Linked DNA regions of Homo sapiens. The protein of the gene in region 1 purifies or fractionates together with the protein of each later gene. This does not show direct contact. Each region holds a gene or a part of one and is shown in the gene's direction. Other genes may lie near its edges. The genes, in order: FYB2 and SKAP2.

Evidence for each region.
Region 2: the proteins of FYB2 (region 1) and SKAP2 purify together in Homo sapiens (affinity purification with mass spectrometry; one large-scale study listed by BioGRID and IntAct). This does not show direct contact.

Annotation. Positions count from the first base shown.
Region 1 is NC_000001.11:56,739,150-56,742,978, reverse strand, and holds part of FYB2 (FYN-binding protein 2), read left to right. Parts: intron 1-757; coding exon 758-818; intron 819-2,183; coding exon 2,184-2,282; exon of another isoform or gene 2,283-3,829. UniProt on the Homo sapiens protein: Adapter protein that plays a role in T-cell receptor (TCR)-mediated activation of signaling pathways. Required for T-cell activation and integrin-mediated T-cell adhesion in response to TCR stimulation.
Region 2 is NC_000007.14:26,738,856-26,742,684, reverse strand, and holds part of SKAP2 (src kinase-associated phosphoprotein 2), read left to right. Parts: intron 1-313; exon of another isoform or gene 314-343; intron 344-2,720; coding exon 2,721-2,798; intron 2,799-3,806; coding exon 3,807-3,829. UniProt on the Homo sapiens protein: May be involved in B-cell and macrophage adhesion processes. In B-cells, may act by coupling the B-cell receptor (BCR) to integrin activation. May play a role in src signaling pathway.

The DNA of each region.
Region 1 (3,829 bases):
CATAAGTATATATAATTATTATTTGTCAATTTTAAAATAAATTTTAGAAAAAGAAAAAGCAATGGAGTGGAGAGAATCAAATGTTACTCTGATTGATCTTAGAATCTCAGAAGTTTAGAGGGAAAAACAACCTTAAATATCATTAAACCCAGTACACTCATTTTAAAAAGAAAATTGAAACATAGAGAAGTGACTCCTCTAAGATCATTGTGTGTTAAAGTTGAGTTTTGAACCTAAAAATCCTGACCCTGATATTCAAAATTCTTTCCATTAGACTCTGTTTCAGGATTGAATTAAAGTATAACTGTGTATGTTAAGCTTATGTGTTGGGCTAGGCCAAAGCCATGCTGTGAAGGGAGAGATTATTCAAGATATATCTCATTTTCCATGGTTGCCCCAGCATTCAGCGCAATGCCTGATGCTTAGTAAATTCTGATTGTTATGTATTAAATACAGGAAGGAGGGAGGGTGGAAGGAAGGAATCTATTGAAGAACCAACTTTCTTTGACTAAATCAGTTCAAATTTGGAATCAGGTGGAAATGAGTCTTAATTTTCATTTATACATACTTTTATAGAGGTTTAAGTATTTTTACCATATGCTTTTAAAAACATGTGGGTGAGTTTCAGTAAAAACTATTTAACAAAAGAAAGATCAAAGTACCTAGCATCTAGTAAGTATCTAATACTTTTTGTTAAATATGAATCTGAACTATTGCTATTATAATGAATATAAGTAGGGTTTTCTTCTAATTTCAGAAGAAAATAGAGAACTGTATGAAGATGTCTACAAAACAAAGAACAACTACCCAAAGATAGAGTGAGTTTCTCTCTTTCTTGGCTTTGTAGGCTAATGACTTCCTGTTAGTCTAGTAAAGCCAGAGTTTCAGTGAGGACCCACCATCCGCCCCCCAGCCCCACTGCCACCCCCGACTCCCATCATCATCTTTTAGGAAAGATTCACACTGAGAGTTATGATAACCTATTGTAATATTACAATTGTGATCAATAGGATACTTGTAATTGTGTACAATCATATACTATCAATATTAAATCACATTGTTCTCGCTTTTGAGAAATACCCATTTCCCAGAGTAAATGATTTTGATATTGGGTTAGAAAATAAGTAATAAAAGAGATGTAAATATTAATAAAACTTGCTTCAATTTTATAGCTGTTTTTCCAGGAACAAATTAATGGTTATGACTTACCTGTGTCTCTGTAAGTTAGTAAGGCTATCTCCGGGATTTGGGCTTAATATAACATGTAGTGTGATTCAGTGTTATCAAGAATAAAATTTGTTCAGATGGGTATTATTCTACAAGTTTAGTTATTAAGGACATGTTGTGGAAAAGAAAACGGCAATGGTCAAAAGCAAGGAGTTTAAGGGTTCAAGGGGAAAAAGACCCTGAACTGGGCATGCTGGTTGGCACGATGTGGGTATATCATTCCCTCACTCTACCCCCTAAAGGCCCCAAAAGGATATTTGACAGAATTGTAATCATCAGCTGGGTAATCAATGTACCATCACTGCTATATTATTCAGTAAATTAAAAATCAATGATAAGAATTTCAAGAGTCAGGATTTTCTATAACGTATTTCTAGCACAGTTTGTAAAGTACATTTCCCTGAGTTATCTTTTCCTCTAAAGGGAAGACTGCTTCATAAAATCTGCAAAATAGAGATTACTTGCAGTAGTTTGTCTTGAAATATCATTACTCCCTTCATAGTTGACTGGTGTGTGCAACTTCATATCACATCTAAACAAAGAAAAGCATAGAACTCAATAAGGCATCTTCTTGCTCTTTCTTGAGTGAGATGTGTTTTGGACATGAAAACAAAGCCTCTGGTTCTTTATTTTTTTTATGGACTCAGAGGTACCTGTGCAGGTTTGATACATAAATATATTGCCTAATGATGAGGTATGGGCTTCTAGTCTACCCATTACCCAAACAGTGAACATTTACCCAATAGGGAACTTTCCAACCTTCATTCTTCCTCCCACCCTCCCGCTTTTTGGAGTCCCCAGTGTCGGTTATTTCCATCTTTATGACCATGTATACCTATTGTTTAGCTCCCACTTACAAGTGAGAACATGTGGCATTTGATTTTATAATACAACAGCCTTCTATCTCTAGTACTCTCTTAAATGCCATGTTACTTATATCCTGTGATTCCTCTCAGTTTAGATGGAAAAGAAGCACTCAAAAGACTGCAGCAATTCTTCAAGAAAGAAAAGGATAGATTTAAAATAAAGAAAACCAAGTCGAAAGAAAACTTAAGGTAAAAAGTCCCTTTAAATCCCTTTCCACGAGGGGATTAACCTGGTAGATACACAAGTTGATGTTCTCCATCCAATCTCAGAAACAGTGAAGGGGATATCAGAAACTAAAACCAAGGGTCTGGCCATCATCTGCCCCTTTCTTGTGAATTTTTGATTGAACTACATGCACAGAGACTAATTAATGAGAAAGTGGCATGCTCCTTTGAAAAAATGGCAGAGAAAGGGTTGAAAATAAGGGTAGAGGGAAAATCTTAAGCGAAGTCCAGAAAGGAAACTTTCCTCATCAGCCTTAACATCCTATTCCTGTTGTTACCACTAAGCATTACTTACCATGTCCTTTTATGCTTTTGGGGCCCTACAAGCCCCAGTAGTTTTTATTTGTCTACTGTTCCATATTTAATTTATCTCCCTTGAGAGCAGCAATATGTGGAAGGGGGAGATGAGCTGCTCAGCTGAACAGTTCGTGTATTGCAAGGTCTTAGACCTGGAAAAGATCCTCTGAGATAACCTAGGCTAACTGCCAGTTTTGAGAGAGGTTCCAAATTCACTAGCACTAGAAAGAGATGTGAGGGGACCTGGATTCTATATTCTAGTACCAGTTCTGCCATTTATTCCATGTACAACTGTGGGCATATCACTTCCTTTATACACCCACAGCATTCCACTTTTCTCCTGCATATAATGGAAGGGGGACCCTGGAGACGCTTTGCAGGCAATAGATAGATATAGATGTAGATATTCAGGTGCACCTCAATTTATGATGGGGTTGTGTCTCAATAAACTCATTGCAACTCTAAAATATGTTAAGTTAAAAGTCCATTTAATACATCTACCAAACATCATCGCTTAGCCTAGCTCATCTTAAACATGCTTGGAATATTTACATCAGCCTACAGTTGGGCAAAAGCATCTAACACAAAGCCTGTCTATAAAAAGTGTTGACTATCTCATGTAATTTATTGAATACTGTACTGAAAGTGGAAAAAGAATGGTCTTAAGGATACTTGAAGTAGGTTTCTACTGAATGCGTATTGCTTTCACACCACTGTAAAGCAGAAAAATTGGGAGTCAAACCATTGTAAGGCTGGGAACATCTGTGTAGATATACAGACATAGAGATGTATTTTGTGAGGGCAGAAGATGCTAAAATAATTTGCCCAAGGTAATTACCTATAGTGAGATGGAATTATGTTGTTCTACCCTGAAGTTCTTTTTGATTATAAAGCCTCAGAGTTTTGTGGCTTTAAGTTCAACTGTCAATTGGATCTAGATCTACCAAGAGACCCTACAAAACATGAGGTTTATAAATTGTAGTCCTGATATGGAAGAAGAGGGAGTGTGGTCAGCGAGACCCTATGCACAAAGGCAGACCCTGGCCTTAGCAGATTAGATGTTTTCTGAGAGAAAATTATTGGCATGATAACCGGCAGTCCCATAATATTTGATCAAGATGAGAATGCTAATGTTTTAAATATGCAAATCTGATTACCTTTCTCTCAAAACTATTCATTGGCTACATACTACGTTTAGAATAAATATCCAGTTC
Region 2 (3,829 bases), on another chromosome or scaffold:
AACAGCAATAAAGGTTTAGAAAAATGAAATTTCAGTTAAAAAAAATGTACTCCCCCACTCCCCAGGGAAGAAATCAAAGATTTTATATTAGAAACATGAATTTAGAATTCAGAACAAGTATTGCTTATGACATCAAATTTTATTGTGATGTATCAGGTGGAAATTTAGTCAACACTTTTCTTAAAGCAAAAGACTCAGGCTATGTGTATATTGAACGCTAGTAAATTCTAATTTCCCTTCTCCTTTTCCTTTTCCCCCACTTCCTCTCCCCTCTCCCTTCTTCCCATCTCTCTCTGTCTCCTTTTTGACCAGTAACATTTTAGAGTTGAAAGCTATGCTAAAGGTACCCATTTCTTTTCAGAATAATTTAACTTTTCTTAAGATTTTGTGAGCATCCATTCCTTATGTAAAGAGCATTTATTATGCCCAATGGAAGTGAGAGGGTTGTGGGACTACCCCTTAATGAGACCAGATCATTCCACAATTATCCACTTTAGATTAGTGGTTCACCAGGACTTGTTTACAGAGATAAGATTTCTGTTTGTAATTTTTGTTTTATGTACAAAATCCTATAATAAATAATTTATACCTTTATATGTACCAAGTTTATTTTGAAAAAAACTGGATACATTTATTGAACAGCTATTAAAATATGTACACTGACTTTCCCTAAAATTTCATATACATTTCAAAATCAGGGCTCTATTTTAAATATGTTTTAATGATACTGTGTGGTGTTTACTGGGTGAAGTTGATCCACCAAGGAGCTGAAATTAGTGCTCTAATTTTAAGCTTTATTTCTTAAGAAAAAATATCCATGACTTTATCACTACTGTGATCCCCATGGTATTAAAAAAAAAAACTGGTAAAATTAGGTGATGAGTTTGTAAATAATAAACTTCCTATCAAACCCATTCTTTTTTTTAATTTTTAATTTTTGTGGGTACACAATAGGCAAATTTATGGGCATATTGTATGTTTTGATACAGGCATACAATGCATGATAATCACATCAGGATAAATGAGGTATCCATCACCTCAACCATTTATTCTTTCTCTGTTACAAAGAATCCAATTATATTTGTTTAGTTATTTCATTTTATTAATTTATTTATTTATTTATTTATTTATTTATTTATTTATTTAGAGACAGGGTCTCACTCTATTACCCAGGCTGGAGCGCAGTGGCACAATCATGGCTCACTGCAGCCTTGACCTCTTGGGGGATCCTCCCACCTCAGACCCCCTTCCCCCCACCTCTACCCTCCTCCTCCACTGGCTGGGACTGCAGGCGCGTATACCACTACACCCAGTTATTTTTAAATTTTTCGTAGAGATGGGGGTCTCACTGTGTTACCCAAGCTGGTGTCAAACTCCTGGGCTCAAGCGACCCTCCTTCCTTAGCCTCCCAAAGTGCTGGGATTGTAGGCATGAGCCATTGCACCCGGCCACTTAGTTATTTTTAAATGTACAATAAATTATTGTTGACTATAGTCACTCTGTTGTGCTATCAAATACTAGATCTTATTCATTCTAATTACATGTTTGTACTCAAACACATTTTCTATCCTAAGTTGTACTGAAACTATTTCCACTGGATGTATTCCATACAAACTTTCTTTTGATTGGTTGTTTTCACTTGCTAGAGTTCTAGTAAAATGCTGAGGATAACTATTATATTTCTTTTCTTTTCTGTTTTCGTTTTTTTCTCTTTTTTTTCCCAGGCTGGATTGCAATGGCGTGATCTTGGCTCACTGCAACCTCTGCCTCCTGGGTTCGAGTGATTCTCCTGCGTCAGCTCCCAAGTAGCTGGGATTACAGGCACCCGCCACCATGCCTGGCTAATTTCTTTTGTAGTTTTAGTAGAGACCAGGTTTCACTGTGTTGGCCAGGCTGGTCTCGAACTCCTGTCCTCAAGTGATCCACCCGCCTCGGCCTCCAAAAGTGCTGGGATTACAAGCGTGAGCCACTGCGCCCGGCAGATAACTATTATATTTCTAATGAAGTTTATAAAAATATTGAACACTTGTAAAATTGAGTAACCTATAATCCATGACCGTGAATATACAATTTCTAATCAACTTAACTTTTGCTTGATTTAAAAACTTTTTTTAGGGATCCAGTATTTGTTTATAATAGTTTTATCAGATCTGTCTAGTTTTAGACTCTTAAATGCCCTATAAAAACCTAAAGCATACTCACTCAGTGGAATGTCCATAACATTTCTCTGAATACAAACACAGAGAATATTTGCTGTGGGCTCAGAGAAACAAGTTTCAGCATTTGATTCGGAAAAGCATTTTATGTTTTACTTGGTAGGAATAGGGATTATGCAGGAAAGAGTCAATATGTATTGAAATTTTTAAAGAGTTAATTCAATATAAATATAACGAAGCTATGATTTATTTGAAATTCTTAACCTCTCTTTCAGGGATTTATTGCATTTATTTATAATAGTTTCTCAGTCCTGTATTTTGGGAGGCTATAATAACATATAGGAGTACAGAACTTTTTTTTTTTTTTTTTTTTTTTTACTTTTGAGACTTTTAGGAGGAATAGAGGGGATTAATCTAGGGAATGGATCTGAAACAAAGCTAATAGACTTAGATTTAAACAATTTCAGTAATTAAAAGCACACTGAATCTAATGAGATCTGGCACTTGTTTATTCTGAAATGGATTACCCACTGCTTTTTTTTTTCTCTCCCCAACTTCTCATAGGAGCCCAGTTTCCTCCAATTGCAGCACAAGACCTTCCTTTTGTTCTAAAGGCTGGCTACCTTGAAAAACGCAGAAAAGGTAAACTGAAGGTTCTAATGAAAAATGTAAAAATAATTTCATCCTTAGATAGAACATGTTTGTAGTATACATGTGGAGGCAGTATTCGTTTTAGGTGATTAAAGAGTTTAAAGATTGTAAGAAAATCTGGATGACATTATCCAAACCACAAAATATAGCTCTTAGCTTTAAATAATTTTTAATAAGAAAACATTAGGTTAGGTTTTTAGTTGTCAACCTTGGTTATTTGTAAATGATTCAGGAGCTGTTTCCTGCCTCTCAAAGGAAAGCTGCAGGCCATGACTGTATTCTCAAAGGTGGGATTTCTCACCAGTATCTCAATGGGCTGAGCAGCAGGTTCTCCTATGCCCAAACTGGCATGCACCATGGTTCAGATCAAGCCTGGAGTTTTGTCTGCCATTGTCTATTATTCATTTCAGTGTTCCTCTCCATTGGCTATGATAATTGGGAGTTGACCATATGGTCTCACTCTTTCAACACCAATATTTAATGGAAATGAAATATGGAGGTGGTTTTATAATATGAGAAATGAAAAGCAGACAGTCTTTTCATTACCATTCTGCTTATCTCTCTTGTAGTCCCTTTAGGCCTTTCTATTTATATTTCATTTTGCTTTTCTTAGCTTTCTTAGCTGAATTTTAAAACTGAAAGAGATAACAGAAATAATCTAGGTTAGCTCCTCCCCTTCTTTTTATAACAGATGAGAAAATGAGACCCAGATGGATCAATTATCTCAAGACTGTATAGTCAGATACCTTTTTGACTGTCCCTGTCAGAAAACTTTGTTAGCCATGCTGTTGATCCCATAAGTATGGCAGCCCCATAGCTACTTTACTTTATTCCCTTTAGCTGTGTTGGTTTGTTGTTGTTTGGTTTTTTGTCTCTTGGAAAAGAAGATACAAATTAGTCACACAATGTTAGAGCTCAGAGGAATCTTAGAAATCATATTAATTAACTTTTTCTTTTACAGTAAGGAAATGGCCTTACATTTTCCCCTCTTTATTGCAGATCACAGCTTTCTGGGATTTGAA